Regions from separate parts of the Homo sapiens genome. Here all the other regions are linked to region 2. The links come from fine-mapping of genetic effects on plasma protein levels. A gene starts in region 2. Each other region holds a variant in brackets. All regions are shown on one strand. Distances are between the middles of the regions.

Evidence for each region. PIP is the posterior inclusion probability: the model's chance that the variant is causal. The UK Biobank Pharma Proteomics Project read protein levels with antibody pairs (Olink). The fine-mapping took linkage between variants from a reference panel, not from the people measured, so its PIPs are less certain.
Region 1: its variant is fine-mapped to the plasma level of the PON2 protein (UK Biobank, PIP 0.98).
Region 3: its variant is fine-mapped to the plasma level of the PON2 protein (UK Biobank, PIP above 0.99). The variant lies in the coding sequence of PON2. If it changes the protein, the assay may bind it differently, which can mimic a change of level.

What each region holds. Positions count from the first base shown.
Region 1 is chr7:95,395,423-95,398,183 of GRCh38, reverse strand. PON3 (paraoxonase 3) reads left to right here and starts at 1,809. Exons shown (of 9, transcript NM_000940.3): 1 at 1,809-1,907. The coding sequence starts at 1,834. It overlaps LOC107986822 (a long non-coding RNA gene), which reads right to left and starts at 1,712. Exons shown (of 2, transcript XR_007060439.1): 1 at 1,156-1,712. The variant T/C (reference allele first, on the strand shown) is at 1,169.
Region 2 is chr7:95,433,769-95,436,529 of GRCh38, reverse strand. It overlaps PON2 (paraoxonase 2), which reads left to right and starts at 1,502. Exons shown (of 9, transcript NM_000305.3): 1 at 1,502-1,652. The coding sequence starts at 1,579. RefSeq lists an enhancer at 1,145-1,715 and a silencer at 1,390-1,819.
Region 3 is chr7:95,410,899-95,413,659 of GRCh38, reverse strand. It overlaps PON2 (paraoxonase 2), which reads left to right. Exons shown (of 9, transcript NM_000305.3): 4 at 1,183-1,348; 5 at 1,881-2,007. All of the region lies in intron 1 of LOC107986822 (a long non-coding RNA gene), which reads right to left. Among named protein-coding and RNA genes, the nearest start is that of PON3, 16 kb to the right of the region's middle. The variant AG/G (reference allele first, on the strand shown) is at 1,267.

The DNA of each region.
Region 1 (2,761 bases), 38 kb after region 2:
AACGCTGAGTGAAATAATAATATGACTATTATTATTTCATTATTCATTCCATTTATTTTTTATTCTTCTAATTTTTCTTTCTCCCAAGTCCATATTTTACATCCATCCATCTAATCATATTTATTGAGTCATTATTAAGCACAAAGTTCTATGGATGGCACGGGAAAACCCAGTGATCAATGCGATGGAGTCCTTCCCACAGGAGCCTACAATCTCAAGCAAAGTTCAGAATTAATTAGTGGTTAATCTTTACTGACTTCATAAAACGTATCAAGCACAGTGCAGAGCACTTGACACTCATTATCACATTTAATTTTAAGCTACCTATGAGGTGGACGTTCTTTTACAGAAGAGGAATCTGTAGCTCAATAAAGCTGAGTACTTTATCTAGGCTGGATCCAAACCCAGGCAGCCTGACTCCCAAACCCTGCATGCATGTCTACATCACACCCCAGGCCCCTCAGCTCTGTGAGCCCTCCTGACTTCGATTCCTCCTCTGCTTGCACTCTTTTAACATTAGTCATCTTAACAAGAACTCTAATCTATACAATTCAAGACGTTACACTGTCCTTTTAATACAACCCTTCTTCCATAGATTTTCTAGAGGCAGCATGGTAGAGGCAGCTCAGTTAAGGGCCCAGATTTTGGAGTCTGCTGCTTGACAGCTGCCTGACCTACAGCAAGCCACATAAGCAATCTGTGCTGCAGGTCTCACCTGTAAAATTGGGGTAAGGCTACCCACACTCCAGAGATTGTGTTGATAATTAAATGCGTTAACATAGGTGTCAGCACAGGCAAAGCACACAGTCAGTACTGCATAAGCGGTGGGCTTCATTATTCATCCTGTAATTACGTATTCATACTAGAATCATGTATCCCATAGGTCAGGGACCACCTTTTCTTTCCTTAATACCCCCAGGATTGGCAAATCTTGCTCTCTCAACAAATAGTTTACTCGGTGGAACCTAACAGAACTAATATTTCTTTCTGTCCGTAAATAAAAATAGATCATGCTTGAATGTGCTACTTTGCCCGAACTCCCCAAGTCTTCCCGCATCTTCAGTTCCTCCCCCTCCAACCTGGTGTTCATCAGGAGAGGGGAAAGAGCATTTCTTGCCTGGCAGGAACTCAAGACCTAGAAGAAAGAGGGCCTACCCTGCCAAGGAAA[T/C]GACCTTCCCCTTCCTCGCCTCTGCTCCTCTTCCCGTTTCCTGTCTTTTCCTTCTTTTCTCCTGGTGTTTCCTTCTCCCGTTAACTATGGGGACAGACGCAGCTATTCACAAGTCCGTCTGGGCAGCACACTCCGAGGTAAGGCACGAAGGTCAGGAGACAGGTTCCCGTGCCCCAAATCCTGGAGAAGATGAGTTAAAGCTCTTCGCTTCGATTGCCTTCGCCCTTCCCGCGTCTCGGGAGCAATTCAGTGTCGCCTCACGTCTGGCCTTGCAGAAGTCCGGAGTTCCGGCTCTGAACTGGAGCTCCCCGCCATTCCCGGGCCCTCCGGTTTCTCCCTCAGGCCATCTGAGGAATTGAGGTAGGATTTCGCGGGTGTTAGGAGCAAACTCCCACCACAACTCGGTCCCGGGCTCCCTCTCCGTTGAGCCTTGACCTCTGCCCAAAAAACAAGGAATCGTGGGCGTGAAGGCGGCCTTGAACCCGGGCGGCGGGGCTCGGCGGGACTCGTCAGCGCCCTGCTGCGGCACCCGGGCCGCTCAGGTAAGTAGGAGGCGTGTGCGGGCGGGGCCGAGCGGGCCCCAATCCGTACGCGAGGCAGGAACCGCCCGCCGCGCCCCCGAGAGCTCTCGGCGCCGCGCAGTCGCCGCTGGGCACCCCGAGACCATGGGGAAGCTCGTGGCGCTGGTCCTGCTGGGGGTCGGCCTGTCCTTAGTCGGGGAGATGTTCCTGGCGTTTAGGTGAGTGGCATCTTGACAGGGCGTCTTCGACTCTCTTTCTCTCCTCTTCCAAGTGAGGTCAGGGGCTGCCTGGCGCCCCCTTCCTAGCGGGTAGGAAAGAGCAGCTTTGGAACCTCACTCCTCCATCTCACCCAGCAAACCGCCCCTTGAGACTCGCTTATGGGGAAAGTGAGCTACTTGCGTTTCCAAAGACTGCCGAGCCGAATTAGTCCCATTTATTTTTTGAAGGTTATGATCCCCCACTTTGCTTTCTGAAGGTCATGACCCCCTTTTACTTTCTGAACGTGATGACCCCTTTCCCAGCTCGCCCTCAACATTCTGCTTGGGAAAAAAGGACGTCCATTGGAAACGCCGGACTTGGGAGAGAGGATCAGGCTACCAGTTGGATGTTTACGGCTGACTGAGACATTGCCCAGGTCTGGCTAACCATGCAGAAGTACTGGGTTATGGAACCTATCCTAGATTTAAAGAGCTGGCCAGACAGCAGGGCAAACCAGCTGAAACCTGCAGGCGGTAACTGGCATTTTGTAGGCATTTGACCTTTTGAAGTGGAAGATACAATGGTGATAGCCAGCCTAGAAATGTCTCAGGAAAAGTCAATACTGGGCTAGAAAGAAGAACCTTTAAGTGATAATACACATTCATGAGTGGATCGAAAGCCTCTGCTTGCTTTCAGTTGTCTTTGAGTGTTTATGTATTTCTCTTAGTTGAAGCTGGTCTTCTTAGAGGATCACGTCTAGAATCTGTTGAGGTGCCTGGTGCCTATTAGTAATACTTCCAGTTTGAGAGTTTTATTGTTACATTTGCTCCCAGTGCAACCACATGGAGAATCATAAAATAATAGTAATAATAAT
Region 2 (2,761 bases):
CCTGATAAATTTTGCATACCTCACAAAGCTCAGACTGCTCTCAGCTATTTTTTTTCCTTACAATGTAATTGATTTTCTTTGCAATCTATACATTTTATTCATTTATTTAAAATTTTTTTTTCTTCTTTCTTTTTTTCATGAACCGCACAGAGAAAATTTATGCATTTTATTGTAAGCATTTATAAACATTATTCTAAGAAGTTATCCACAGGCTCACCACTGCCAGAAGGGTCCACGACACAAAAAAGGTAATGCCTCATGGGCTTTCAAAGGACAACTTTTTACTTCTCTTTCTACCATCCAGTATAATCCAATATCCTTAGGACTGAAGCAGAGATACACACACACACAGGGAGAGAGGTGTTTGTGCTTTTTTTTTTTTTTTTTTTTTTTGGTGAGAGGCAGGTGGGAAATTGGCATCCACTTTTATTTACTGGTTCTTTATAAAACTGATATTTGTTGAAAATTGTCAAGTGTGACCATTTCTGCCTACATATTGTAGGGTGGCAATTAAATACCGAAAACCATTAGAAGCTTATTTCAGATGTACTCATTTATTGTAATGGTATCAATCTTGATGGGTAAATTTCATTTTACTTTTAAAATTGTATTTTAAATTATTCCTTCATGTTACGGTTGTTAGAGTAAAAACGGAAAAGAAAAAAACTACACTTCTTCCCTTTGAGTTTGGATGAAAAAGACGTGTCTAAGTCCTTAAGTCTGTAGTCTGGAAGTATTAATAGAGGCTGGGCATGGTGGCTCATTCCTGTAATTCTAGCACTTTGGGAGGCTGAGGCAGGAGGATGGCTTGAGTCCAGGAGTTTGAGACCAACCTGGGCAACACAGCAAGACTCGGTCTCCACACACACACACACAGACACACACACAACTTACACACACTTAGCTAGGTGTAACGGTACGTGCCTGCGGTCCCAGCTACTCAGGAGGCTGAGGCTGGAGGGTCCCTTGAGTCCGGGAGGTCCAGACTGCAGTGAGCTATGATTGTGCCAATGTACTCCAGCCTAGGCAACACAGCGAGACCCTGTTAAAAAAAAAAAAAAAAAGTATTACGAGGCACAGGATGTTTATTTATTCGCAACTACGTCCTGTTATAAAAAGTAGTGATTCCAACGTGAAATATTTACACGACGCATCCCGTTACTTTCCCTCCCTTGGCCACCGACCCCCATCCCCAAAAGCTGCTTTCTATGTAAGTTTCTCACTGGAATAGCGAGTGAGAAATGTGTTTGAAGACTAGGGAAACGAGAAAGGTATGCGGGCTGCTAGAGGGTTTCGGGTGGGTTGTTTGAAAAAGGAAGTGAAGGAATTCAAAGTTTCACATCATGAGCCTAATGTAAGGCGTGTCCGGGCCGTCCCGAAGGTATCTGGGGAAATAGGTTTGTGAGGACAAAGACCAGGGCCAGGCCCAGGGCGGAGCCTCCGCGGCCCCGACGCAGGGACTCGGCCTAGGCGGAGGACGGGGCGGAGCGCGGCCGGCACCATCGAGCCGGGAAGATGGCACCGCCCACGGAGCTGCTGGCCAGGCCGGAGCGAGGCAGCGCGCCCGGCTCCCGCGCCATGGGGCGGCTGGTGGCTGTGGGCTTGCTGGGGATCGCGCTGGCGCTCCTGGGCGAGAGGCTTCTGGCACTCAGGTAGGTGGGACTCCCGCGCGCCCCTCCTCGGCGGTCCCCAGGCTCGGGGTGGCCGCGTGGTGCGGGGAGGGCGCAGGCTGGGGGAGGGATTCCTGCGGGACCTGGCCCTGCGGCCGGGGGTGGAGAATTTTTGAATGCTGTCCCTCCCCCAGCTAGTTGAACCCCCATCACCCCGACTCTCCGCTTCTAGTGAAAAAACTAGCAAAGTTTGGAGTGAATCGCGACACTTTCTTGAAAGTTTATAAGCCCTTGCTGCTAACAAAGTTCTCTTCTGCTTAGGCTGACAAGAGAATGCTTTGCAATTACCCAAGGGCCAAACTAGTGGTTTAAATTGAAAACAAAATGACTACTCATGCATTGAAACCTTAACTATGAAGATTTATTTCAGGTCATTGGTGCTGTTTCTCCTTGTTGCCCAAACCAGACCCGTCTTTAATAAAGTTGTTCTCCACCCATTTCTGCATAGTTTGAGAAACTCTTCAGCTGTAGATCAAAGACACTTGAAATATTCAGCTACTGTTCTTACTTCCTATTTATTCACCAGGGAAGCCTGAAGCCAGAATGCCAGACAGCGCAGACACTATTCCATCTCGCATTTTAGTTTTAATGAAAATCTCTGGTAGGTAGACATCATCGTTTATAAATTACCAACTCAACGTTTGTTTTTTGTTTATTTTATTTTTTGTAGAGATGGGGTCTTGCTGTATTGCCCAGGCTGTTCCCTAACTCTTGCACTCAAGCAATCCTCCAGCCTAGGCCTCCCCACAGTGCTGGGATTACAGGTGTGAGCTGTTCTGCCCTGCCTCAACCAAAATTTTATAGGCCTCATGCAAAAGAGTTCCAGAAAGACTGAGCACCTGCTATGTGTAATGTTCTCTCTTAGGCTTCTATAGTAGAGTACGACCCTTATGGAGTTTGATACAGGGGAAGAGAGAATTAAAATACAGTAAATGTATAAATTAGGATGTTCTAAGGACAGACACAAATGAACCGCATAGGCTTAAAGAGGAAAGATTCCATCCCCTGAGGGTGGAGTTCTAGAGGGAGGAAGAGACATTCGACCTGACCTTGAAGGGTGGGTGCAACACATATGAGCATGAAGGGGCCCA
Region 3 (2,761 bases), 23 kb after region 2:
TTTACCTTAAGAATGTAATGATGAATCACCATTTTAGATAGACTGATAGGTAATTTATTAACTGATTTAAAAGAGAAAAGACCTATATCATCTCAGTGAGTACCAAAAAGCATTTAATAAAATTCAATACTCATTCCTAAAGTTCCAAGCAAACTAGAAAGATAAGGAAAATTCCCACAAAACTACAGCAAACATCATTCTTGATGGTGAAGCATTGGCTGCATTTGCATTAATGCTCAGAACAGGAAGAAAATACCCAACACCACAACCATCAGTAATCTACTAGAGTTCTTAGTAATTCAGTAAAACGAGAAAAAGAAATGTGAGATAGAAAAGAAAAAGACAAAACTGTCATTAGAGAAGCAGGGACTGGCTCAATTGCCCAGGCTGATGTGCAGTAGTGCAATCATAGCTCACTGCAGCCTGAACTCCTAAACTCCTGCGCTCAAGAGGTCCTTCCACCTCAGCCTTCCGAGCAGCTAGGACTACAAGTGCTCACCATAACACTCAGCTAATTTTTTTTTTTTTTTTTTTTTTTTTTTTTGTAGAGACAGAGTCTTGCTATGTTGCCCAGGCTGGTCTCAAACTGCTGGCCTCAAGCAGTCCTCCCACGTCAGCCTCCCAAAGTGCTGGAATTATAGGCATGAGCCACCAGGCCTGACCTAAAGCTGTAGTAATTTAAAAAGTGTTATATTGGCACAGGAATAGACATGAGACATTAAAATAACAAAACAGAGAGTCCCTAAATAGACCAATATGTAAATGTCAGAGATCTAGCACATGATAAAGGTGATATTTTGAATCAGTGGGAGAAGGATGGACTGTATGCCAGGCACTGTTCCAGGCACTGGGATCTAGCAGTGAACAAATTTCCACAGTCAGTATGTAGATGTCACTTTTCTCCACCCTCAGCTCTCCCTGGAATCACCTAGTCCACCAACCTTCTGATTACTCTCTGAAGAGAATAAATCCCTGATCTTCTTTTCAGTTATTTTCAGGCTTTCAGTATTCCACCTCCCCGTTATTATTTTTTCTGTTATCTTTTCTCTGTTTTTTGAGTTTTTGTGGCTTTATGCCACTACTTTAACCACAATCTCTATTTATCCTTCATGTACAGTTCCCATGTTAGTCCATAAAAATACTTAAGCTTTTGTATTTAACATTTTTCACCGTTTTGGAAAGGGTCTAAAATTCCCAGGACTCCACAGCTTTGCACCAGATAAGCCTGGAGGAATACTAATGATGGATCTAAAAGAAGAAAAACCA[AG/G]GGCACGGGAATTAAGAATCAGTCGTGGGTTTGATTTGGCCTCATTCAATCCACATGGCATCAGCACTTTCATAGACAACGGTAAGAGCCAATGGGCTACCAACATTTAGTAACGTGTGATGGTTCACAAATGACTGTGAAAAATAGATTTGGATCATATTTCTAGGAAGAGAAGAACAATTAACTCATGAGTGATTTCTGTATTCTTCATTACAAAGAACTTGTTCATTTGCCTCTTCAGCTGGCAGTAAGTTATGCTACATTTTGAAATTCCTAACAGGTAACACCTGAAAGAATGTTTAGATTTCATAATCTTTTCATATACCTACGATCATCACATTTAAAAAAGAACTGTATTTTTGAATTAAAGTAGAAACAGATTATGCATGAATTCTGTATATGGAGTAGGAAACACTTTCTTAAAGGTCAGGGAGCCAATGATCAGAAATAACACCAGACGGACAGCAATAGGAAAGACAGAGAATGATCTGTTAGGTCGTCTAACAGCTTATACATTCAACCTTTCCTTGCCTGTGGTATTTAAATGTCAGTGCCTGCCCAGAGGTCCCGTAGTTATGTCTTGTAAATTAACTCTGTTCTTTCAATTCTTTAGATGACACAGTTTATCTCTTTGTTGTAAACCACCCAGAATTCAAGAATACAGTGGAAATTTTTAAATTTGAAGAAGCAGAAAATTCTCTGTTGCATCTGAAAACAGTCAAACATGAGCTTCTTCCAAGGTACTTCCTCATTTTGTTCCTTCTCTAATTTATCCCCAGCATTTGCAAACAATCCCTATGGTGGGTTGTCCTGTCATCTTTTATAAGCGCTAATGTATATATTAGCTAATATGTAAGAGCTAAAGAGCTTATATTTCCTTATTTATAAATGTGTGTGTATAGTTTCCTTATAAACCAGGGCAAGCATGGCATATGAAAGTTGATGTCACTCATACTATTCACTGTTCTATGCGGACTCCTTTGAGAAATGATGAAGTGCCCGACTACAGGGTGATACTCTTCAGGCCCATCTTGAGGGTAGAAGGCAAACCCTAACATTTTTTCCTGCTGTCACCCTCCATCTTAGATGACTCATCACCCAGATGAGTGTCTTGCCAAGGAAGAATGGCCTGTTTTTTATTGGGTTTGTATGCTTTGCATGGGACTTTATACCAATCGCTTTCATAGGGTTAGTGATGGTTGCATGCTAGTAATCCCACAGAATTAGAGCCACTCAAGTTGAGAGTGAGTCATTACACTTCAAGAACATAAAGCTGGTTGAAAATGTGGCTAAGAGAGAATCATGTGTACCCCCACCCCCAGTTCAGTGTGTATTAGCCTACTGCTTCTTTTAGTTTAAACTTGATGAATATTTTTAATTTCTAATGAAATTTCATTTCTAATGAAATTAAAAATATTGCCTATCTAGGGCCTATCTATGCCTATCTAGGGCATAAGCATGTAACTTCCAATCATTCCTTCCAAAAATGCACTT